7 linked regions of the Homo sapiens genome follow. The protein of the gene in region 1 interacts with the protein of each later gene in a pairwise test. Each region holds a gene or a part of one and is shown on either strand. Other genes may lie near its edges.

Region 1 (3,500 bases):
ACCACCCTCTCATCTCCCCCTTTTGTTTTCAAAGAGAAACTGGTAGTCTGGGTAGATTCAAAGCATCTTTAAGAGAAAATGTCTTGGGGAGCCCCAAGGAACTGTTGAAGTTAAGTGTGCCATCGTTAGTGTATGCTGTTCAGAACAACATGGCTTTCCTAGCTCTTAGCAATCTGGATGCAGCAGTGTACCAGGTAAGTGGAGTTAATGATAATGAAAAGCACAGAATCTTTTATGGTAAAAAGAGTTTTTATTAACTCTTTATCATATTATCAATTTTTTTTTTTTTTTTGAGATGGAGTCTCGCTCTTTCGTCTAGGCTGGAGTGCAGTGACGTGATCTCAGCTCACTGCAATCTCCGCCGCCCAGGTTCAAGCGATTCTCCTGCCTCAGCCTCCCGCGTAGCTGGGACTATAGGCACATGCCACCACACCCAGCTAATTTTTTGTATTTTTAGTAGAGATGAGGTTTCACTATGTTGGCCATGATGGTCTTGATCTCCAGACCTCGTGATCCACCACCCGCCTCGGCCTCCCAAAGTTCTGGGATTACAGGTGTGAGCCACCGTGCCCGGCCATTATCAAATATTTTTTATTGATAATTTTATCAATGATACCAGAAATAATATATTTGTATCAGAGACTAACATTAACTGAATTTATTAATTCATTCTCTTTTTTTTAGGTGACCTACCAGTTGAAGATTCCGTGTACTGCTTTATGCACTGTTTTAATGTTAAACCGGACACTCAGCAAATTACAGTGGGTTTCAGTTTTTATGCTGTGTGCTGGAGTTACGCTTGTACAGTGGAAACCAGCCCAAGCTACAAAAGTGGTGGTAAGAAACAAAATGCACACCATAACTTCCCATAAATAGAAAACTTCCTTAAGTCTTATACTGTTCAGTTACATTGATGCATGCAGCATGACTACATTTCTTTGATTTAAAATAACTTTTGCCTTATAGATAGGCCTTTTTTCTTTAGCATATTATTAGGGATAATAATACTTATTGGTTGTTTCTCAGAGGAGAATATGCATAAAATATGTTACAGATGGAACATACCTTAGAAATAATGTGTTCCATCCCCTCCATTTTATGGATGACAGTCCCCAAAGAGGTGAAGGAACTTGTCCTAAATTAGTTAATAGCTAACTTGTGACCACAACTGTGCCAGTTTCCATACTGTATATGTTTAGAACTTCTAGACCTCTTTCAAACATCTCAGAAACACTGGGCAAGGTTTTTCTGCATCTAGTTTTCATCTTCTCTCTCAACTGTCAGTCTCTGGCACATCTCCCTACTGTCAGTGATCAGGATGACAAGGGAAGGAGTGTTCTTACTGATAATTGATAATTATCTTTAGTTTTTAAGAGTTAATGTGAAGGTACATAACAGATTTTTAAAGAGTTAACGCTAAGATACATACATGATTTTTTTTCTTACATTGTATGCCTCAATCAGTTATTTCCCCAAAGAGAAACAGGAAATGGGATGCCAGTGAATAGTTTTGTGAAGGTCAGGAGTTTCCTACAGTTGAATATTTACTCTAACTTTTAGCAAACAGACTATGGTTCTCTTAGGAATGGAAGGCGGCTGGGATGTACAGTGCTTGTGAACAGTATCATATCCCCACCCTCCAGGTCCCCTCCTTCCCCAATTAAAACCCTACTGTTTCTTTCTATAATATGGTTTCTAGACAGACTTCCTGATCCCTGCCTTCTGCCCCTACACTTTTCCTTATATTTTTCTCCTAGATGCATTCATCTGTCATTATTTCTCAATATATCCTAAAACCCCACTGTCTCCCAATGTTGTCTAAGTAATACGAGGCACAGTTTGGTAATTACCCCTTTGTTCTGAATACCGGAGACTTGTTATACAGTCATGCATCGCTTAACAAAGAATGTAAGTTCAGGGTTCTGAGAGATGCATCATTAGGTGATTTCACTGTTGTGCAAACATCATGGAGTATACTTACACAAATCTAGATGGTATAGACTACTTACTACACATCTAGGCTGTACAGTATATAGCCTATTGTTCCTAGGCTACAAACTTCTGCAGCATGTTACTGTGCTGAATACTGTAGCGAGTTGTAACACAGTGGTAAGTTTAGCGTACCTAAACATAGAAAAGGCACAAATATAGTTTTATCTTACAGGACCGCTGTTTTATATGTGGTTCATCATGGACTGAAATGTCATTATGTGGTACATGACTGTTAATTTCTGGGGGGCAGGCAAAGTATCTATTTTACAATTGATCATAAACCACTACATGTAACTGTGTCACCCAAATAGTTTGTCTCAAATGTATCTTGTATCCCTCTCACCCCACTGTTCCCTCAATCTGTCTGCACTGCCATGCACTCCTCCACTACTGGTTAAGTGGGTTCCAAGTGTCAGGACTGGAATAGACTCTCATTGACACTAGAACTCAAACTCTGGCTTATTCTAAACCAGAATGCAGGTTGAGTTTGTATTTATTAAGCTCTTCTTGTTAGCTTTGGGTCATTGCTCAGCCCCTTGAGTTATTTCCAGTTCTTACCCATTATTAGCTTCTCCTTTGGGTATTACGCTTTCCAGAGTCAAAAAAAATATGCCTTCTGGGTCTTTAATGAAAATTTTAGGTAGAACAGGACCAGAGTTCTGTGGCTGTACCTTTAGAATTCTCTCTAGCTTGATCTTTTTCTTGCTTACTGAACATATCATCTCTCATAGTTTTTATGGGTCAGGAATTTGAGGGTGCCTTAGCTAGCTGGTTCTGGCTTGAGGTTGCAGTCAAGATACTGGCTAGGGCTGCAGTCAACTGAAGACTTGACTACGGCTGGAGGATCTGTTTCTAACGTGGCTTATCTATATGCCTGGCAAGTTGGTATTGGTTGATGGCCTAGCTTGATTTTGTTCAATTAACTACCATTTTTCTGTATGAGCATTCACACACTTACGGATTGTACCTTTATCCTCACTACAGTTCTGTGTTGTCTATAAAAATATTATGTGGCTGGTCGCAGATCACCAGGTGAGGAGTTCGAGACCAGCCTGGCTAACATGGTGAAACCCCGTCTGTACTAAAAATACAAAAACTTAGCTGGGCGTGGTGGCAGGCGCCTGTAATCCTAGCTACTCAGGAGGCTGAGGCAGGAGAATCGCTTGAACCTGGGAGGCAGAGGTTGCAGTGAGCCGAGATCGCGCCACTGCACACCAGCTCGAGTGATAGTGCGAGACTCTGTTTCAATAATAATAATAATAACAATAATATGCAAGTCTGTCACATTTTTTGCCAAACATTATCTCTATGGAATTCCCCTCATCACTTAACATTAGGAGTCCTTTCAGTAAGGAAATCTGGTATGTTTCACACTTGGTGAAGTCACACTATTTTCCACTGATGACCATTAAGCTTTTTAAGTACAAGTCATCTCTAAATCTGTTCTAACATTTTGCTGGTAATCAATGTAACAATAACAGCTGCAATCATTTATAATGCACTAAATA
Region 2 (3,500 bases), on another chromosome or scaffold:
TACCCTAGGGCATGTGTACAGGCAGCTAGGGGTGAAGTAGATGGGTGAGTGTGTGCTGGTGTGGGCTGGGCTGTATTGCCTATAGGCTGTGGTGAGTATACAGATTGGTGTGGGCAAACATTGCACTTAATAGTGTGTGTGTGTATCCATTGGGGTGCATAGTACATGCAGAAGAATATATATGCATGAGGATGTTGGGCTGTCGTGTGTGTGTGTGTGTGTGTGTGTGTGCATGCGTGCGCGCGTGTCTTGGGGGTATGGAAGCCTCCTATCAGGCATGGGGGGGTTGTGTTTACCTGGAGGGGGCACAGTGAGGGTCAAGGAGAAGCTGGCAGCGTCCTGGGGCTTTTGGATTCAGTTCTCCTTTAAGGGAATGGCATGGATAATTATGCTTATTATGATGGATTATGCAAATGCGGAGGTCGTTTGGGGGTCAAAGCCTGCTTGTCACCCTCCTCCTCAGGCATTCTGTGACTTCTAAGGCTTTCCCTGCTGCCTCCCAGGCTCCGTTCCCCAACCCCTATTTCTCTGTCCCCTCTGGGAGTTGCAGCTACCAGCACCCCCTCTGTAGTGTTCCTGAGAGGGCCTCATGAGTCCCAGCGCCCATGCCTGCAGGTCCCAGGTGTCCTCGCATTAAGTTCCCGCTGAGCATCCCAGGTGGGCTCAGGGGTGACTGGGCCGTTCCTCCCCCTGCACACCCTGCCATTGGGGATGCTTGCTGTTCGGAAAGAATGTACTCTTGGAAGCAGGTTTGGAAAATTACTGAGGTGGCCCCTTCCCCAGCCTTGCCTCATCAGCATGAGGCTAAATTAGGATGTGTGAGTTCTCCCCTCTGCCTCCCACCCTTGCCTTCTCTCCTTCTCTCGTACCCCCAGCCCACCCTCCCCGTCTCTGCCCCTCTGCCCCCTGGCCTCCCTCAGTCCTCGACTCTCTGTCACCGTCTCTGTCTCTGCCTCCCCCTTCCCTGTCATCCTCTCAGTTCCCCCGTGATCTCTCCCTCTCCTGTACCACCCCATCTCTGTGGGGAGCTGCAGCTCCTGGTCGTTAGCATGGAGAAGATGGTCGTCATGGTAACGGTTGTCATGTCGATGGCTACTGAGCTGGGGATGAATAGTATGTAGGTGAGCGCTACCTGAGTGGAGGCTGATGGGTTTCCAGGAGGCTCGATGCTTGTCTCTGAGCTCAGAGCTGCACAGCAGGCCCAGCTCCTCCTGCCCCATGTGAGTGGCTGTTTTTACCCCCAGGCATGCTGACACGCTGAGCCCTCTGTGGCTGCTTTTAGGTGAGCATGTTTCAGTGTGTGTCTGTGCATGTGCTGTGTCTCTGGGGTGTGTCATTTCAAGGGTCTATGTGGCATGGGGGTAGGTCTTTGGGTTTGTACAGGCTTTTCTTGGAGCAGGAAGTTAGGGGCTAAGTGGCACTGGTCACTGAGGAATCTTGGGGACTCCCTTGTTTTGGCACCCACATTTACTTCAGTTGGGGGCTTCCAGGGACCACAGACCTCTTAGTATCCCTCCTCCCAGCTAAAGGCCTCCCAGCCACTGCCCAGCCTACTGGGAAGGATAGAAAGACAGTGAAGACAGCCCTGGGCAGGGGCAGGAGCCGGAGCCTGGGTCCCTGCTCAGTCCCCATTCTTCTGTGTGACTTCAGGCTGCTTGCCAGAGAGCTGGAGGGAGCAGGGACTCCAGGTTGGCTGGTTCAGGTTGTGGAGGGGAGTGCCATGGGGAGTTCTAGCTCCTCCACCGTGGGTATTTTTCTTTCTGGGCAGAGGGGAGCTGGGGAAAAGTTGGGCCCTACTGCTCTGAGCTCCTAGAATGTTTAAAAAAGGAGGAAGACCCAGCAATTCGTCACGGGAGAAATTACACTAATTGTTCCACTCCATGACTCACTGGTAGAAAGTAAATACTGATTAATTCATTACTTTGAGACTATGTGTGTGTGTGCATTTTGTGAGGGGGCACCTCCTGGCTCCCTGCCCTGGCTGGGCTGGGCAGGGCTCTGGAGCAGGTGGTTGAGGCTGGGGATATGAAGACAGGATTGAGATCCTCACTCTGGCTCTGTATCAACTCCAGAAGGGGGCCCATCAGTGGCAGGGGGTGAGAGGCTGGGCCCCAAATGCAGGGCCATTCCAGCCCTCGCCTGCTCACACATGCCCCAGGGCTCCCCACAGCCAGCCCAACATTGCGGCTGCTCAGAGACCACCCCAGACCTACTGAACCACTGAATTTAGTTTTCACAATATTCAGATGTGCAGTCAAGATGAAAAATGACCAGTTTCTAAGAGAAAGTCATCAGCCAGACACTGAAAGCCTTCTGGGATGGGACCCCAGGTGACTTGCCACACCCCACCCCTGCCCTGTGAATTATTCACACACGCACTTTCCTTCAGGGTACACACAAGATCTCTGTCACCCACGTGGATGTCACTCAGCCCACAAGGGCACCTGTCGCCCTTCTGGGCTCACCCAGGCTGCCAGTCTCGGGTGCCGAGCCCTGTGTCCACCTCTACCTTCCCTAGGCCCAGCGCTGGCGCAGTGAGAACTTCGAGAGACCCGTGGACCTGGAGGGCTCTGGGGATGATGACTCCTTTCCCGATGATGAACTGGATGACCTCTACTCGGGGTCGGGCTCGGGCTGTAAGTACCCCCCTCCCTACCTCTGCCTGGGGGCAGTGACCAGTCTGTATCCAGCCTCAACTCTGAGAAGCCCACGGGGGGCTTGCTTCAGTGAGGCAGGGGGCATTCACTGCCTGGGTCAGGCAAGTTCTTCTTGCTCTGGATCCCCAGAACAAGAAGGGCAGAACATCCTTCTGGGGATAGAACAAGACCTGGGAGGACCTCAGGGCCCAGAATGTCCAGGTCTCCAGGGTCCCACGTCTGCATCTTTGTGTGTGCTATGTGGCTTTCTCTGCAGACCTTGCTTGGTTCCGGTGGTCCCGTCAGGTGCAATAAGCTGTGGCCAATGGTGGGGTTAGGGCAGTGATGACACAGGGCAGGTGCTTCAAGTGGTGCCTGGGATGGCCCCGCCCTGGGGAAGGGGAGCCAGGTCAGCTGGGTCTAGCAGAATCTCGGGAGAGAAGGGCACCGCGAACCCCACTCTGCCATGTAGCAACTGTGTGCCCCTCGGTGCTCCCCCTCCCTGAATCCCTGTATTTTCACCTGTGGATGGTGAGAAATACGACTTCTTCTCAGTGCCTCTAGGAGGGTTTGGGATAGGAAGCTGGGGTCTGGCACAGAGGAGGAGCTCTCAAAATGGTAGCAAAAAGAAGGCAGCTGAGACTGGGCCCAGTGAGGGCACGGGCTGGCATCTGAGGAGATGGTACGGGGTCTGCACGCCACAGAGCTGGCTCCCCACAGCCCTCGCCTCTGGTCTCCCCTCCTTAGCCAAGTCCTTTGAGCCTCTTTCAAATTAATCTTTGTAAAACCCGTTTATATTGGGTCACATCTCTATTCGCAAAGTTCCCTGGCTCCCCTCCCTCCTGCCTGGTTCCGAGCCCAGGA
Region 3 (3,500 bases), on another chromosome or scaffold:
GAAATGGGAATGTAATTGTAGCCAGGCACTTTATTTGTGTTTAAACTTCATTTGTGCATTTAGTCTCTCCTCAACTCTGTGAAATAGAAATGATTTTACCTGGTTGACAATTGGGAGCTGGGATAGCATCGGTTCTCTAGACAAGCTCTGTGAGTTTTGGTGAGTGGTAAGGACCCTGTACAGAGTCAGAGCAAATGCACTGGGCAAGGGCTTCAGGGACCTTCGAGTAGCATCTTGACATTTACCAGTGTTATAGAACAGTTAATATCAACAATAGTTTTGATGGAGACCATTAAAGGTTATGTGTTGAAATATTCTAAGAAAAAGTTCCTTTTTAAAAAAAAATTGTTATATTGCCATTCCTTGCTCCTTTTTTGGTCTTTATTTTAGCATTCTTATTTAAAACAGATTTTGAGCACTCTTTATGTGAGCTTTCCTGACTTGGTACATGCTTATTTTTATGGAGAATTTTAATCTTATAGAAATATACTATTATAGTGAATTAAGTGTATCCACCACTCAACTTCAATAATTATTAACTGTTGGCTAATCTTGTTTCATCTATTCCCAAACTCACCTCCCACTCCTCTTCCCTGTTATTTCTTTTCTGTTTTTTTCCCTTTCCTATGATGCCAAGCCTGTGTTTTTTTTTTAACAGCTTTACCAAGAATTCCATATCAGATAATTTGCACACCATACAATTCACCCCTTTAAACTGTACAATTTAGTGGCTTTTAGGATGTTCATAGAATTATTCAACCATTACCACAATTTTAGAACATTTTTATTACCCTGGAAGAAACAGTTTAGCTGTCATTCACCAATCTTCTGGTCTTAGCCCTTGGCAAACACTAATCTACTTTCTATTTATGGATTTGCCTATTGTAGACATTTGATAGAAATGGGATAATGTGTTGTCCTCTGTGACTGGCTTCTTTCACTTAGCATAATCTTTTGGAGATTCATCCATGTATCTATGTATCAGTACTTTTTTTTTTTTTTGAGACAGAGTCTTGCTCTGTCACCCAGGCTGGAGTGCAGTGGTGCAATCTCTGCAACCTTTGCCTCTAGTTTCAAGTGATTCTCCTGCCTCAGCCTCCTGAGTAGTTGGGACTGTGGGCCCACACCACCACCTCTGGCTAATTTTTGTATTTTTAGTAGAGACTGGGTTTCACCATGTTGGCCAGGCTGGTCTTGAGCTCCTGACCTCAGGTGATCTGCCTGCCTCAGCCTCCCAAGTACTTGATTTTTGAAAACAGCCAAATAATATTCCATTGTATGGATATACTGCTTTTTATTTCTTTTCAATTGTTGATGGACATTTGGATTGTTTCCACTTTTTTTTCCTTTTTTTGAGACAGGGTCCTGCTCTGTTGCCCAGGCTGGAGTGCAGTGGTGTAATCTCTGACCTCCTAGGTTCAAGCTGTCCTCCTGCCTCAGCCTTCCTAGTAGTGGGACTACAAGTGTGCACCACTATGCCTGGCTAATTTTGTAAAATGTTTGTAGAGATGGGGTTCTGCTCTGTTGCCCAGGCTTGTCTCAAATTCCTGGCCTCAAGCACTTCTCCCATCTCATCCTCCCAAAGTGATAGGATTACAGGTGAGCACCACTGTGCCCAGCCCACTTGTTGACTGTGGGCTGGGCACAGTGCTATATTATAATGCTGCTATGGCTGGGCGTGGTGGCTCACGCCTGTAATCCCAGCACTTTGGGAGGCCGAGGTGGGCGGATCACAAGGTCAGGAGATCGAGACCATCCTGGCTAACACTGTGAAACCCCATCTCTACTAAAAATACAAAAAAAAAAAAAAAAAAAAAAAATTAGCCAGGCGTGGTGGCAGGCGCCTGTAGTCCCAGCTACTGGGGAGGCTGAGGCAGGAGAATGGCATGAACCCGGGAGGCGGAGCTTGCGGTGAGCCGAGATCGCGCCACTGCACTCCAGCCTGGGCGACAGCGAGACTCCGTCTCAAAAAAAAAACAAAAACAAATAATGCTGCTATGAACATTTGTGTACAGGTTTTTGTGTGGACTCCTGCATACCTGGGAGTGGAGCTACTGGGTCATATAGTAACTTTTTTTTTTTTTTTTTTTTTTGAGACGGAGTCATGCTCTGTTGCCCAGAGTGCAATGGCACAGTCTAGGCTCACTGCAACCTCCGCCTCCCAAGTTCAAATGATTCTCCTGTCTCAGCTTCCCGAGTAGCTGGGACTATAGGCGTGTGCCACCACACCCAGCTAATTTTTGTATTTTTAATAGAGATGGGGTTTCACCATGTTAGCCAGGTGGGCTCAAAACCCCGACCTCGTGATCTGCCTGCCTCAGCCTCCCAAATTGCTGGGATTACAGGCGTGAGCCACTGCGTCCAGCCATATAGGAACTCTTTAACCATTTGAGGAACTGCCAGATAATTTCCCACAATAACTGTACCTTTTATTTTATTTTATTTTATTTATTTTAAATAGACATGGTTTCACTCTGTCGCCCAGGCTGGAGTGCAATGGCGTGATCTTGGCTCATTGCAACCTGTGCCTCCCGGTTCAAATGATTCTCCTGTCTCACCCTCCCAAGTTGCTGGGATTATAGGTGTATGCCACCACACCTGACTAATTTTTGTATTTTTAGTAGAGATGGGGTTTCACCATGTTGGCCAGGCTGGTCTCGAACTCCTGACCTCAGGTGATCCACCCACCTCGGCCTCCAATAGTGCTGGGATTAGAGGTGTGAGCTACTCTGCCCAGCCGTGCACCAGTTCGTATTCCTACCAGCAGTGTCTGAGAGTTTCAATTCCTGTGGTTGTGAAATAAATCTCAGATATAATTTCATCCTAAAGTATTTTAGAATGTATTAATAAAGTATGAGGGATTTCTTTTTCAAATATAAACATAATGCCATTATAGTATCTACTAACATTAATTTTTAATATAATCAAATATTCAGTCAGTATTCAAATTTCTTTCTTTTTTTTTTTTTTTTAATATAGAGACAGGGGCCTCACTCTGTCACCCAGAGTGGAGTGCAGTGGCACAATCTCACTGAATCATTGAACTCCTGGTCTCAAGTGATCTTCCTGTTTCAACTTTCCAAGTATCCAGGACTACAGGTGTGCGCCACCATGCCTGGCTAATTTTTTTTTTTTTTAATTTTTTGTAGAGACACGGTCTTGCTATGTTGGCCAGGCTGGTCTCAAACTCTTGGCCTCGAGCAATCCTTCCACGTCAGCCTCGCAAAGCACTGGGATTATAGGCATGAACAACCGTGCCTGGCTTTGTGTTCAAATTTCTAATTGTCTTATAAATGTTATTTTAGGCCGGGTGCAGTGGCTCATGCCTGTAATTCCAGCACTTTGGGAGGCTCAGGTGGGCAGATCACTTGAGATCAGGAGTTCGAGACCAGCTTGACCAACATGGTGAAACCCCATCTCTACTAAAAATACAAAAATTAGCTGGATGTAGTGGTGTGCACCTGTAATCCCAGCTCCTTGGGAAGCTGAGGCAGGAGAAT
Region 4 (3,500 bases), on another chromosome or scaffold:
CTCCAGTTTAAGAGTTGACCCATACAGACTGGGCGCAGTGGCTTACGCCTATAATCCCAACACTTTGGGAGGCCGAGGCAGGTGGATCACCTAAAGTCGGGAGTTAGAGACCAGCTTGACCAATATGGAGAAACCCTGTCTCTACTAAAAATTCAGAATTAGCCGGACATGGTGGCGCATGACTGTAATCCCAGCTACTCGGGAGGCTGAGGCAGGAGAATGGCTTGAACCCGGGAGGCGGAGGCTGTGGTGAGCTGAGATCATGCCATTGCACTCCAGCCTGGGCAACAAGAGTGAAACTCCATCTCCAAAACAACAACAAGAAGAAAAAAACAAAACAAAAAACCACCACCAAAATGTTGAACCATAATGGAAAAAAGATTAACCAAATGATTTAAGGAAGAACCAATGTGATTAGAAACCCACGCCTATTGGTAGAGTGGCACTGTTACACCAAGCTCTGTTCTGGGAACACTACAGAAATGTAGAGCTCAGTGCTCTACAGGCACTGTGCTTACAGGCAAAACCTAAGCCTTAAGGTACTCCTCAGGATAGTACCTGATAGGGAACATGCAAAAGGCTGTAGCATCTCTCACATTAGACCTCAATGGCTGCAGCCAGAGCCCTCACCTAAGTTGGATCTCTCTACGGAGTATCTTGTGCAGACATGAGTTAAGGAAGCATCCTTTGGCATTTGGGGAGGAAAGAGCCTAGAAATTATTTTCCATTAGTTAGCGACTCTCAGTCAGAATCTGAAAGTACATAATAATAGCTAGCATGAGGAGGATTTTGGAAGATGGATGACACCTGATTTCATCCAGACATAAAGAAAAAATAAAATGCTATAAAGGGGAATTACAATAATGACAAAAGTCATTATTAGCAATATAAAAATGGCTACAAGGGGGATAGCAATGCCCTCTTTCACCTGTCCGTGGGACCCTAGTCATACATAATATACTATTGGTCTGGGCAGACTTGGCTGATCTGAGGTACCAATCTCATTTTCCTATGATCTTTCTGTGCCTATAAGTGATCTACCAAGAAACATCTTGCCTGGGATTTAGGCACCATCTCCCCGACTTGGGGCACCACATCTGCTGTAAGGACTCACCGACATAAGCAGACACTTGTTTTCCTTGATAGAGCCCATGCAGCCCAGGAAGGCAACTACCATGATAATAGAGCCCACGATGACAAACACATTGCCCAGCGTGAGGGAGGGGAGGTTATGGAAGAGCACTCCGAAGTTGTTGTGGATCAGCAGGTAGATCCCAAAGCCCAAAATGCAGCAGCCACAGATCTGAAAGGAAGAATCCCACAACATCCTGAAGCAAAATGTGGTTCTTGGGTATCTCCTCATATTCTCACTTCCTTGAGATCAGAATCACTTTATTTTTAACTGGCTCAATCAAGAGTCTCATGAACAATTTCTTTACCAAACTTTTCCATGCTTACATTGGAGAGGCAATCTCAGCTTTCTCATGTGGAGACCTACTCACAACTCTTCCTACCCATCTCCAGATACCAAGGAAAGATCACTTCTGTGAGCCACACAGTATCTTCACCATATATAGGTCTAACTTCTTTTTCCTTATCTTTTCAGTCGCTCACACATGGCTTTCTCTGTAGAAACCATGACCATGTAGAGAAGATGCCCTGCTTGAGGAAGCTCATCTTGCTAGGCAGAAAACTAGAGAAGCCAAACTTATAATAATCTTCTCATATACACAAGTACCAACCCATCCTATATCTGAAATTCAATTGCTGAATTTTATACAGTGAAACCTCCCTGGAAAGGGTGACTTTCCTTTCAATCACTTATTGTTTCAAGGAATCTAGAAAAAAAGACAAGAAAAACAGAGGCACTCAATATCCAGAGCACAGTCTCAGGTTTCTCACCTATATATGTTAGCTACGAGTAGTAGTAAACTAAAGCCCTCAGAGAGAAACAGCACCTCCATTAATAACTGCACTGGTACCTTTCAATTTTGCAGGTTTATTCTGTGGCAGGAAGAGGGGAAAAATTATTACTCTTTTGTTTCTAGGATGGTTGTGCTGGACATGACCCAAACACGCATGCATTTTACCCCACACCAGCCTCTTCAGTAGAGGAATGAGGAGAGCTTAGCTGGGTAAAGGTGAGCTAAACCGTGCTCAGAAGAGATACACTTACCCAAAAGAGCAAGTTGAAGAAAAACAGGACATACTTCAGCAGTTTCAAGCTACTCATGCCCATGCCGTGATATTCTTGCCCTAAGGAATAAGGAAGAAGAAAGTAAGTTACCTCACTCTGTAAGGTAGCCAGAGATCAGAGTGCACAAATGTTCAGGGATCTCTAGCATTACCTTGGGTTTGAGCTGTGGCTCTCCTCTGGAAAGTTTCCCCAAACTCTGCGCTTTCCTAGTTCTAAACTGAAATACCAACTGGCTCATCTTAGACATTCAGTTTTTGCCCAATTCGGCAAGCCAACAATGCTTAACATTGAATTAAGTATTGTAGAAGAAAATAGAGCCATTCTTAGAAGAGGATGAGTCACAGTGACAGAGACCAGGCCAGTGCTTTAGCTCTAACTGCAGCATTAGCAACTAGTGCCTGGGCACTTAAGCCCTTGAAGTCAGGGATGGACTGGTCAATCAGCCATCAAGAAAGCCAACAGCTTGATCAGCCAGTTTCTTAAATACTCTGTGATTTATGTACATGCTACATTTGATCAGTAAACTTCTCCACATGAAAGTAGGGGGAACATATCCACGCCTCATTTATTCTTTTATTGCAGAAACATTTATGTTTTCTGTTCTAGATGTTGTGGAAGATGCAACCATGACTAAGCAGTAGCTATCCTCCAGAAGACAACAGTCTTACAGCAAAGATAAAACAAGCCAACAAATATGCAATGGGGAAGTAAAAAGAGATAGCAATGTAAGCTTTATTTTTTTCAACTAGAATATCATTTTCTTAGTGAGGACATCAATGTCCAATGTCTGGTTCTCAATTCTAGAAATCCAGATACAGAATTTTGACTTTTCCTTTTCGCTTTCCTTTCCTTTCTCTTTCTCTTTCTCTCTTTCTTTCTTTCTTCTTTCAGGGTCTCAATCTGTCACCCAGGCTGGAGTGCAGTGGCACAATCTCAATTCACTGCAACCTTCACCTCCCAGGCTCAAGTGATCCTCCCACCTCAGCCTCCCAGGTAGCTGAGACTAAAGGCATGCACCATCATGCCCGGATAATTTTTGTATTTTTAGTAGAAACGAAGTTTCACCATGTTGCCTAGTCTGGCCTCAAACTTCTGACCTCAGGTGATCCGCCTGCCTCGGCCTCCCAAAGTGCTGGGATTACAGGCATGAGCTACCGCACCTGGCCAGAATTTTGAATTTTCTGTCAGAGGTAATGATATTCTATAAAGTGACTCATTTTTAAAACCGTGCACAGGACTGATATATCAAGCAGAATGTTGGGGCAGTGATTTTTTTCCATTAAAATTATGCCTTTTCCAGTGC
Region 5 (3,500 bases), on another chromosome or scaffold:
CTTTTTAATGATGTTATTTCATGAATATTATATAAATAGAATCATACAGTATATATCCTTTTGAGATTAACTTTTTTCAATCATCCTAATTTTCTTGAGGTTCATCAAAGTTGTTGCATGTATCAGTACAATAGTTAATTCCTTTTTATTGCTGAGTAGTATTCCATGGTATGTATATACCACAGTTTGTTTAACCATTTATCCATTGAAGAACATTTGAGTAGATTTTAGTTTTTAGCTATTCCAAATAAAACTGCCATGAACATTCATCTACAAGATTCTGTTAGAAAATACATTTTCTTTCTCTGGGATAAATGCCAAAGAGGACAATTGTTAGGTTGTACGGTGGTTGCATATTTAGTATATTTTAAAACTGCCCAACTGTTTTCCAGAATGGCAGTACTGTTTTATGTTTCTAGCAAGCTTATGAGTGATCCAGTTTGCTCTCCATCCTCACAATCATTTGGTGTTAGCATGATTTTTTTTAGCCATTTCTGATGGGTATACAGTAATAGCTTGTTGTGTTTTTATTTGCACTTACTAATAGCTAATGATGTCAAACAGCCTTTTATATCTTATTTGCCATATGTGTACTTTTTGTGGTGAAATTCTAACAGTATCTTTTGCCCATTTTATGTTGGATTAATTGTTTTTTAATGTTGAGTTTTGGGAGTTATCTACATTGAAATCTTTTGTTGGATATGTGATTTGTAAATATTTTTCCCAACTCTGTAATTTTTCTTTTCATCCTCTTAATGGGGTCTTTCACAGAGCAGAAACTTTTATTTTGATGAGGTCTAAGTTACCAAATTTTCCCTTTACAGAACAGTACTTTTGGCATATTTTTAGTATCAGGTTAAAGAACAGTTTAAGAAATTAGGTCTCAAAGATTTTCTCCTGTGCTTTTTTCCCAGAAGTTTTATAGTTTTACATTTAAGTCCATGATACATTTTGAGTTCATTTTTGTAAAGTTATGAGGTTTAGGCTGAGGTTCATTTTTTTTTTCACCTGGGGATAGATAATTGCCCCAGCACTATTTATTGAAAAGGCTGTTCCTCCCCCATTGAATTGCTTTTGATTATATGTCAAAAATTAATTGCACATATTTGTGTGGGTATAATCTGGGTTCTCTATTCTGGGTTCTTTATGTGTCTATCCCTCTGAAAGTACCACGTCTTGATTACTCTAACTATATGGTAAACCTTAATATCAGGAAGAGTGATTCCTCCCATTTTGTTCTTTTTCAAAATCATCTTGGCTCTTCTAGAGCCTTTTTCTTTCCATATACATTTTAGATAAAGCTTTTCTATGTCTACAAAAAACCTTTCTGAGATTGTGGTAGTAATTCCATGAATCCTATTGATTAATTTAGGTATAATTGACATTTAGCTATGTTAATTCTACTAATTCATAAACACAGATATCTCTAAAAGTTTTAGGTTTTCTTTTTTTAAAATATATTTTTTGAGACCAGGTCTCGCCCTGTCACCCAGGTTGGAGAACAATGGCACAATGAGGGCTCACTGCAACCTCGAATTCCTGGGCTCAGGTGATCCTCCCGCCTGAGCCTCCTGAGTAGGTGAGACCATGGGCATGCACCACCATGCCTGGCTAATTTTTGAACTTTTTTGTAGAGACAGAGTCTCCACTTTGTTGCCACAGTTGGTCTCAAACTCCTAGGTTCAAGTGATCCTCCCACCTCGGCTCCCTAAGTACTGGGATGACAAACCTGACCCACCATTTCTGACCTTTGTTTTCTTTCATCAGCATTTTGTCATTTTCATCATACAGATCTCATGCATATTTCATTAGATTTATACCTAAGTATTTCATTTTATTTGGCACAATTGCCAATGGTATTTCTCTTTTTATTTGTTTCCATGTGCAATTGATTTTTGTGTCTCGACTGTACATTTCCACCTTACTGAACTCAGTTATTAGTTCTAGGAGGCTTTTTGTAGATTGTTTGAGATTTTCTATGTAGATAATCATGTAGTCTGCAAAAAGAGGTTAATTTTTTCCTTTCACATTTGTATACCTTTTTTTTCCCTCATGGCAGTGGGTAAGACTTTCAGTATTATGTTGGATAAGAGTGGTAGATAGTGGACATTCTTGCCTTCTTCCCAATCTCAGGAGAAAACCATGCACTTTTTTACTATTAATTAACTGTGATGTTAGCTATAGGTTTTTTTGTAGATTATGAGATTGGGGAAGTTATGCGCTATTCATTTTTCTAAAAGTTTTTATCATGAATGGTTGTGGAATTTTTTCAAATGCTTTTTCTATCCCAACTGATACGACCATATGACTTTTTTCTTTAGCCTGTTGATATGGTTACTTTGTTAGATTTTTAACTATTGAGCCAACCTTGCATACCTGGATTAATCCCATGTGGTTGTGGGTTATTATTCTTTTTATGCATTATTGGATTTGATTTGCCAGTATTTTGCTAAGAATTTTGTGTCTAAGTTCATGATAAATATTGCTCTGTAAGTTTCCTTTTTGTATTTTGTCTGGTTTTGGTATCAGGACAATACTGGCCTCACAAAATGAATTGGGATGTATTCCCCCTCCTTTTATTTTCTGTAAGAGATTGTGTAGAATTGACATTAACTCTTCTTTAAACATTCTGTAGATTTCTCCAGTGAAACCATCTGGACCTGGATATTTTGTGGGGGAAGCTTTTAAATTACAATTTGATTTATTTAATGGTCATAGGATTATTCAAGTTATATCTGTTTTGCTTTGGCTGAGTTTTGGTAATGTGTGGTTTTTCAAGGACTTGGTTCATTTTTTCTAATTTATCAAGCCAAAAGTTGCCCCTAGTATTTCCAGCTACTCTTTGGATGGCTGTGGGATCTGTTATAATACCCCATTTCATTCTTTATATTGGCGATTTCTGTCTTTTCTCTTTTTATCTCTGTTAGTCTTGCTAGAGGTTTATGCATTTTTTTTCAAAGAACCTGCTCTTTTGTTTCAGTAACTTTTCTCTATTGTTTTTGCTTTTAGTGTCATTGATTTCTGCTGTTATTCTTACTATTCCTTCTGCTTACTTTGAATTTATTTTGCTCTTTTTCTAGATTCTTGAGGCAGAAATCTAGATCATTTTTGAGACTTTTTTTCTTATGTAAACATTTAGTCTTTTACATTTCCCTCTCAGCACTGCTTTAGTTGCATTCCACAAATTGTGATACATTGTGTGATCATTTTCATTCACTTCTATGTATATTTTTATTTTCTTTGAGACTCCCTCTTTGACCCATGGATTATCTAAATAACCCATGGTGTATGGTGTTTAATGTCCACATGTTTGGAGATTTTTCTGTTATCGATTTCCAGTTTGATTCTGTTGTGGTCAGAGAATATACACTGTATGATTTCAAGGGTTCGGTAGCTACATGTGACTGGTGGCTAGATGGAGACATAGAGCATTAAGATTTTAAAGGCTTTGGCAGGTTGAAGCAAATCTCTCAAAAATTAATAGAGTTAACTTTAATAAG
Region 6 (3,500 bases), on another chromosome or scaffold:
AGCACAAACTGGAGCCAGACTGCTTGGGGGTGTGGGGATCTGGCTGTGCTCTGTGATCGCTGTGTGACCTTGGGCAGGTCACTTAACCTTTCTGGTACTGCGTTTCTTCATCTGCAAAATGGGAGTAATATCATAGGGATGCTGTGAGGATCTAAATGAGTTAATACTGATGAACTAACTGCTTAGAACAAGGTTTGCCCCTTACTAAATACTGTGCACGGTGGTAATAAGTAATAATAATTGATTTCTCCTACTTTTCTTCCTCTAGTCTATATCACTACCCTTCAGACACACTGGACTCTTTTCTCTCCTTCATACAAGTCAAGCCTTTTTCTGTCTCCAAGTCTCTGCTCTTGCTGTTTTCTTTACCTGTGTTCTCTCTCACATATCACTTTATGCTCTTCAGATCCTTTGTCGCAATGTCACCCTTATGTTTTATGGTATGGTCCTGCTGTGTTTTTGTCTTCCCTGACTGCATGCTCACTCGTGCTCTCTCTCAATCATGCGCTCTCTCTCTCTCTCCCTCCCTCCCTCTCTCTCCCTCCCTCTCCCTCCCTCCCTCCCCCCCACTCTCAACTGTGTATTCTAGAGAGTCAGGACCTTCCTTCTCATTCTTGATCATTCTCATAGTAGCCCTGCCCCTTGAGTGGAACATGGCATTTAGTAAAGGATGAATAAGGGAAGGAATCATTCTGAGAAAATACTGAAGATGATAGCTATGGACTTGAGGCAAGCATCCCATTTAGGTAAAATGCTTTGTCCGACATTGAATTTATCATATCAGCTTCATTTAATGCATTATGAGATGTTGTCTTTATTTTTCCTTCTGTATCCCATGGCTTCTCACCATTCCCCTCCCCCTCCACCCCGCCCTCTGAGGTTGCTGCCTGCAGACCATGGGAAACATCCAGTGGGTTGTCCCTGGGATCACATCTCTTGGGAAGCTCAGCTCCAAAGGGTCTAGCAAAGCCCAGGGCTTCTAGGTTAGGTATCTCCCACAGAACCTTCTGTGTCAAGAATCTGGGAAAGTTTGTCCTTATACCTGCAGGGGAACCTGGAATTTATTCTGTCTTGTTATAAATCTAGTATTCTTAGATTCCTGAAGAACAGAATTACCAGTTTTTTCTCAGAGGAGATTTCATCAGGCATGTGTGTTTAGTGCCTTATTACACAGAAGGCACACTCCAGAGAAGAAGAAAGCAGGTAATTTGCTTATTTGGCTTTAACAGAGTTTCAACAGAGTTCGTGTGAGTGCAAGCTTGTGCTCTATAACCAAGAACCATTCACTGGAACTTGAGCATCCTGCTGATCTTCCCTCCCCCACTCCCAGCCAGTGCAGCCATGTATTAAGCAATTGTTTTCAGTACCAACAGTTTACCAAAGTGTTGGAATAAAAACGACATCTAAAACTTGAATATTTTATATGGCCAAACTATGGCTATTTAACTATACAGTTGAATATATTTGGATTATAACATATTTATCTCTTAAAGGGACAGATCTTCCATCCTCCTAACATATAGTTAGCTTCCACTCTCCAAATATTCCACCAGCAACATTGATGAATATTGAAGACTATGGACTGTGAGGTACTGTGAAAGACCCACTCTAGGACCTGCTTGCTGCTATTTGCCTTACTTGAACCAGTAATCAAGTGCTGGATAAATAATATGATTTCTATTCAACTTTTTGTTTTTAGCCCTTAGGGAACAATCTACTGAATATGCAATGCAATTGTCGGGGGATAGTTACTTTTCATTACCTAGGTTTCTGTTCCTTCTTTTAAGTGTAATTTAAATCTGGCTGTCATGAAGGTTTGGCGCTCAAACAGATTTTAGCATCTGTTTAATGTAGAAGTGGACTGGAACTAGCATTCTGAAAATGTAGTCTGAACCCAAAGAAATCCCATGACTCTCCTTTTCTGTCCTATCATAGAAACAGATAATTACATTTTTAAAGTTTTTGTGTGTGGGTGTGTGTGTTGTCATTTTGAGGTGGGGTTTCACCATGTTGCCCAGGCTAGACTCAAACTCCTAGGCTGAAGCAGTCCTCCCACCTCAGCCTCCCAAGTAGCAGGGATTACAGGTGTGCACTACTGCACCCAGCTTAAGTTTTACTTTGTTTCTAATAGATATATAATATTGGATATATTTATGAGATACAGTGTGATGTTTTAGTACGTATATACATTGTGTAATGAGCAAGAGGATTGCGTTTATGGGCCAGGCACGGTGGCTCATGCCTGTAACCCCAGCACTTTGGGAAGCCAAGGTGGGTGGATCACCTGAGGTCAGGAGTTCGAGACCAGTCTGATCAACATGGTAAAAACCCATCTCTACTAAAAATACAAAAATTAACCGGGGCGTGGTAGCACACACCTGTAGTCCCAGCTACTTAGGAGGCTGAGGCAGAAGAATCACTTGAACCTGGGAGGCAGAGGTTGCAGTGAGCTGAGATGGCACCACTGCACTCCACCCTGGCAACACAGTGAGACTCCGTCTCAAAAAAAAAAAAAATTGTTTTTATGTTACTTCCCTCTAGGCTCTTTAATTTCTCCATTGAGCATTGTGTGAGCTCCGCTGAGCATTGTATGGAGGGTCAGCTGCCCTGGCTGGAGATGGTTTTGAGGCTTGTTCCTTCGTGGAAACATCTGGATGCAGAAGTTAGGCTGTACAACTATCCAGGGGAGCTTTAAGTGAGCCAAGTGGACCCTCAGCACCACCTCAGAGTGTTCTAAGCTACCGTCTGGTGTTTGGGACTCAGGGAAGTCCTTTTGGTATGATCAGACTAGCCCTTTATGTGACTATCCTTGTGTGTTACTCTCATTAAAATATTGATTTTTGCCATGTAAGGAAGATTGGAATAGCACAGGCAGCCGAATAAGGATTTTAATGAAACATTGGAGAATGGCTTCAAGTTAATCTGTGAATGCTTTGTCATTGTCCCATCCCTGGACACATTAAAAAGAAAAAAAAGAGCAGTTGAGAAATTGCAGTACAATTTGAGGAGAGCAATATCATACACAGAAGTAGGGACTACTTTTGTCAAAGCTGGATTTTATTTATTTGGGAGCAAAGAGAGAGAGCTGAAAGACATAATCTTCTCTCCCTTAAGAATCTCATTGTCATTTAGTAAAATAAAAGGTAGTGTCACTTCATGGCTCAGAAGTGGTAAATTATTTGAGGCAGGTACCCAAATCCATAAAGCCTGCCTTTTGCTTTGTTTGTGGAATGCTGATTGTGTGCTGGGGAATTTCTGATGGGCAGCCAAGAGGAATTTGGGAAGTAGTGAAGGAGACCTTTACCCCAGGAGTGTTCTATTGGATGTAGTTCAGGAAGCTTTCTGGGTAAGCCTTGCAACCAAAGGAACCCTGCCCCAGTAAGATACGTCAAATGGTGGCAGAAGCAAGAATTAGAGGAAAGGTTGAGCAACATTTTGGTATTTGAATAGCTGTGTTCCCAGGAAACTCTGTCAGTAAAATTTCTAGAGGTTAAGTACCT
Region 7 (3,500 bases), on another chromosome or scaffold:
ATTTTATGTGTGGCCCAAGATAATTCTTTTTCCAGTGTGGCCCAGGGAAGCCAAAAGATTGGACACCCCTGTTCTAGAGCTTAAAAAATACTATATATGGAATCATACAGTGTATATTTTTTTGGTGGTCTGACTCTTTTCATTCAGTATAATTATTCTGAGATATAGTCATGCTATTACTTGTAACAATAGTTCATTCCTTTTTATTGCTGAGTAGTAAGTAGTCTGTTGTATTTATATACTACAATTTGTTTGTCCACTCACCTGTTGATATACATTTGTGTTGTTTCCAGTTTGGAGCTATTAAATAAAAATAAAGCTGCAATTCAAATACAAGTCTTTTATTTATTTATTTATTTCAATTTTTTTTTTGAGACGGAGTCCTGCTCTGTCACCAGGCTGAAGTGCAGTAGCTCAATCTCAGCTCACTGCAACCTCCGCATCCTGCATTCAAGCTATTCTCCTGCCTCAGCCTTCAAATACAAGTCTTTATATGGCTATATACTTTTCTTTATCTTGGGTAGATTACTAGGAGTAGAATGGCTGGGTCATATGGTAGATGTTTGTTAAACTTTGTAAGAAACTACCAAATTGTTTTTCAAAGTGGTTGTACATTTTACTTTCCCACCACCAAAGTGTGAGCGTGCCAGTTGTTCCAAATCCTCACCAGTACTTGCTATGGTCATTATGTTTAGTTTGAATCATCCCAGTAGGTATGTAATAATTTCTCACTGTGGCTTTAATTTGCATTTTTCTAATGATTAAAGATGTTGACTATCATTTAATCTACTTATTTACCATTGTATATGTTCTTTTTTTTTTTTTCGAGATGGAGTCTCACTCTGTTGCCCAGGCTGGAGTGCAGTGGCGTGATCTCGGCTTACTTCAAGCTCTGCCTTTCAGGTTCACGCCATTCTCCTGCCTCAGCCTCCTGAGTAGCTGGGACTACAGGTGCCCGCGACCATGCCCGGCTAATTTTTTGTATTTTTAGTAGAGACAGGGTTTCACCGTGTTGGCCAGGATGGTCTTGATCTCCTGACCTCGTGATCCGCCCGCCTCGGCCTCCCAAAGTGCTGGGATTACAGGTGTGAGCCACCACGCCTGGCCTTGTATATGTTTTTTGATGAAATGTCTAGTTAGACCTTTTGCTCGTTTTTAAATTGAGTTTTTAAAAATTATTTTTGAATTTTGAGAGGTTCTTATATATTCTGGGTTTAAGTCCCTTATTAGACATATGCTTTGCAAGGATTTTTCTCTCAGTCTGTGATTTGTCTTTTCATTCCATTAATAGTGTTTTTGAATTGTAGTTTTTAATTTTGATAAAATCCAATTTACTAATCTTTTATTTTATGGATTGTGCTTTTGTTGTACTACCTAAAAATCTTTGCCTAACCCAGGGTCACAAAGTTGTGTTGTTTTTTTTTCTTGCAAATTTTGTAGTTTCAGACTACATTTAGGTCTATAATCTATTTTTAATTACTTTTAACTGGTGCCAGATATATATAGAAGGTTTTTGTTTTGATTTTTTCCATATGGATATGGATATCCAGTTTAACCAGCACTTTTTTTTTCTTAATAACTATTCTTTTCTCTCTGAATTACCTTTGCATCTTTATCAGATTTCAGTTTTTGTATATACGTGGGTCTATTCCTTTACTTTCCATTGATCTATTCGTGTATTTTGATTCCAATACTACACAGTTTTGATTACTGAAGCTTTATAACAAGTCTTGAAACCAGATAGTGCTAGCTGTTTTACCTTGTTCTTTTTCAATGTTGTTTTGGCTGTTATATACGTTCTTTGCATTTCCATATGAACTTTAGAAATTAGCTTGTCAAGTTTTAAAGAAAAAACCTGCCCAGATTTTGGTTGAGATTGCCTGGAATCTATAACTCATTTTGGGAAATGTTGATATCTTAATAAAAATATTCTGTCTCTGAAAAAGTCTTTTTAAATTAATAGGCCTTTTAACTGTCTCAGCAATATTTGATAGTTTTCAGTAGTCAAGTCCTTAATTAGATTTGTCCTCAAGTATCATTTTTTTATGCCTATATAAATTTTTTTAACGTTTCAATTTCTTATTGATTGTTGTTAACGTATAGAAATACAATTAATGGTAGATCCCGTTGAATTTTCCACATAGAATATCACACTTTTATTTCTGCCTTTCCATTCTGGATGCCTTTTATTTCTTTTCTATTTTTTTCTTTTTTCTTTTTTTTTTTTTTTTTGCTGGATTGCATTGGCCAGAACTTCCACTACGATGTTGACTAAAAGTAGAAAAAGCAGACATGCTTGTGTTGTTCATGATCTTAGGGAGAAATTATCAAATTTTTTTACCATTAAGTCTCATATTACTGTAGGTTTTTCATAGATGTTTTTGATCAGGTTGAGAAAGTTCCCTTATACTTTGCTGCAATTTTTTTTTTTAACAGGAATGGATGTTGAGTTTTGTCAAAGGCTTTTTCTGTCTCTATTGAGATGTTTATATGGTTTTTTGTTTTTAGTTTGCTAATATAGTGAATGACATTTGATTTTTAAATGTTAAACCAATCCAACATTTCCAAACTAAGCACCAGTTTTTCACAATGTAGTATCCATTTATATATTGTTGGATTTAATTTACTAATATTTGGCTAAGGAGATTTGTGTCTAGATTCATAGAATATTAATAGTTTTCTTTTCTAGTAATATCTTTGGATTAGTATCAGTGTAATACTGGCCTCAAATAATGAGTTGGGGAAATATTCCTTCTTCAGTTTTTTGGCAGTTTGTATAGAATTGGTATTATTCCTTCCTAAGTGTTTTGTAGAATTTACCAGTGAAGCCATCTGTGTCTGGGAGATTTTTATAACTACAAATATAATTTCTTTAATAGATATATAGATTTTCAGGTTGTTCTTCTTATGCTTTAGTAATTTGTGTCTTTCAGGGAAGTTGTCCATTTCATCTCACTTGTCAAGTAAATACAGGCACAAAGGTGTTTGTAATAGTTCTTCAGTATCCTTTTAATATCTGCAGACTCTAACAATGTTATCTGTCTTGTTTATGATATTGGCAAAAGTCTGTTATTAAGGACACGTGTTTTAGATTGTTATGTACTTTTTATTAATTGACCCCTTTATCACTGTGAAATGACCACTTTTATACCTGGTAATGTTATTTTTCCTATAATCTGTCTAACATTGAAATAGTCACTTCACCTTTCTTTTGATTAGTGCTAGCATAGTATATTTTCTCCTATCCTTTTACTTTTAACCTATTTGTGTCTTTTTATTTAAAATGCATTTCTCATTGGCAACATGGAGTGGGGCGGTCTTTCTTTCTTATTCAATCTAACAATCTCTGCTTTTCAATTGGAATGCTATACAATTTGCATTTAATGAGATTATTGATATGGTTAGATTTACGTCTGTCATCTTATTTGTTTTTGGCTTGTCCCATGTGTTATTTGTTCTCTTTTCTTTGTTTCCTGCTGCCTTTTCAATTGAGTAGTTTT

What was found.
Region 2: the proteins of SLC35A1 (region 1) and SDC3 interact in a two-hybrid assay, tested with the Homo sapiens proteins (one large-scale study listed by BioGRID).
Region 3: the proteins of SLC35A1 (region 1) and F2RL1 interact in a two-hybrid assay, tested with the Homo sapiens proteins (one large-scale study listed by BioGRID and IntAct).
Region 4: the proteins of SLC35A1 (region 1) and CD53 interact in binary tests that used the Homo sapiens proteins (3 or more experiments, as listed by UniProt).
Region 5: the proteins of SLC35A1 (region 1) and ASZ1 interact in binary tests that used the Homo sapiens proteins (3 or more experiments, as listed by UniProt).
Region 6: the proteins of SLC35A1 (region 1) and MGST3 interact in binary tests that used the Homo sapiens proteins (3 or more experiments, as listed by UniProt).
Region 7: the proteins of SLC35A1 (region 1) and EBAG9 interact in binary tests that used the Homo sapiens proteins (3 or more experiments, as listed by UniProt).

The regions. Positions count from the first base shown.
Region 1 is NC_000006.12:87,500,474-87,503,973, forward strand, and holds part of SLC35A1 (CMP-sialic acid transporter), read left to right. Parts: intron 1-34; coding exon 35-194; intron 195-684; coding exon 685-837; intron 838-3,500. UniProt on the Homo sapiens protein: Transports CMP-sialic acid from the cytosol into the Golgi apparatus, functioning as an antiporter that exchanges CMP-sialic acid for CMP. Binds both CMP-sialic acid and free CMP, but has higher affinity for free CMP.
Region 2 is NC_000001.11:30,877,759-30,881,258, reverse strand, and holds part of SDC3 (syndecan-3), read left to right. Parts: intron 1-1,168; exon of another isoform or gene 1,169-2,318; coding exon of another isoform or gene 2,319-2,330; intron 2,331-2,518; coding exon 2,519-2,636; intron 2,637-3,500. UniProt on the Homo sapiens protein: Cell surface proteoglycan that may bear heparan sulfate. May have a role in the organization of cell shape by affecting the actin cytoskeleton, possibly by transferring signals from the cell surface in a sugar-dependent mechanism.
Region 3 is NC_000005.10:76,825,530-76,829,029, forward strand, and holds part of F2RL1 (proteinase-activated receptor 2 preproprotein), read left to right. Parts: intron 1-3,500. UniProt on the Homo sapiens protein: Receptor for trypsin and trypsin-like enzymes coupled to G proteins.
Region 4 is NC_000001.11:110,890,148-110,893,647, reverse strand, and holds part of CD53 (leukocyte surface antigen CD53), read right to left. Parts: intron 2,257-3,500; 5' UTR 2,240-2,256; coding exon 2,177-2,239; intron 1,304-2,176; coding exon 1,115-1,303; intron 1-1,114. UniProt on the Homo sapiens protein: Structural component of specialized membrane microdomains known as tetraspanin-enriched microdomains (TERMs), which act as platforms for receptor clustering and signaling.
Region 5 is NC_000007.14:117,375,494-117,378,993, reverse strand, and holds part of ASZ1 (ankyrin repeat, SAM and basic leucine zipper domain-containing protein 1), read left to right. Parts: intron 1-3,500. UniProt on the Homo sapiens protein: Plays a central role during spermatogenesis by repressing transposable elements and preventing their mobilization, which is essential for the germline integrity.
Region 6 is NC_000001.11:165,634,234-165,637,733, forward strand, and holds part of MGST3 (glutathione S-transferase 3, mitochondrial), read left to right. Parts: intron 1-3,500. UniProt on the Homo sapiens protein: Displays both glutathione S-transferase and glutathione peroxidase activities toward oxyeicosanoids, as part of cellular detoxification as well as synthesis of bioactive metabolites.
Region 7 is NC_000008.11:109,546,673-109,550,172, forward strand, and holds part of EBAG9 (receptor-binding cancer antigen expressed on SiSo cells), read left to right. Parts: intron 1-3,500. UniProt on the Homo sapiens protein: May participate in suppression of cell proliferation and induces apoptotic cell death through activation of interleukin-1-beta converting enzyme (ICE)-like proteases.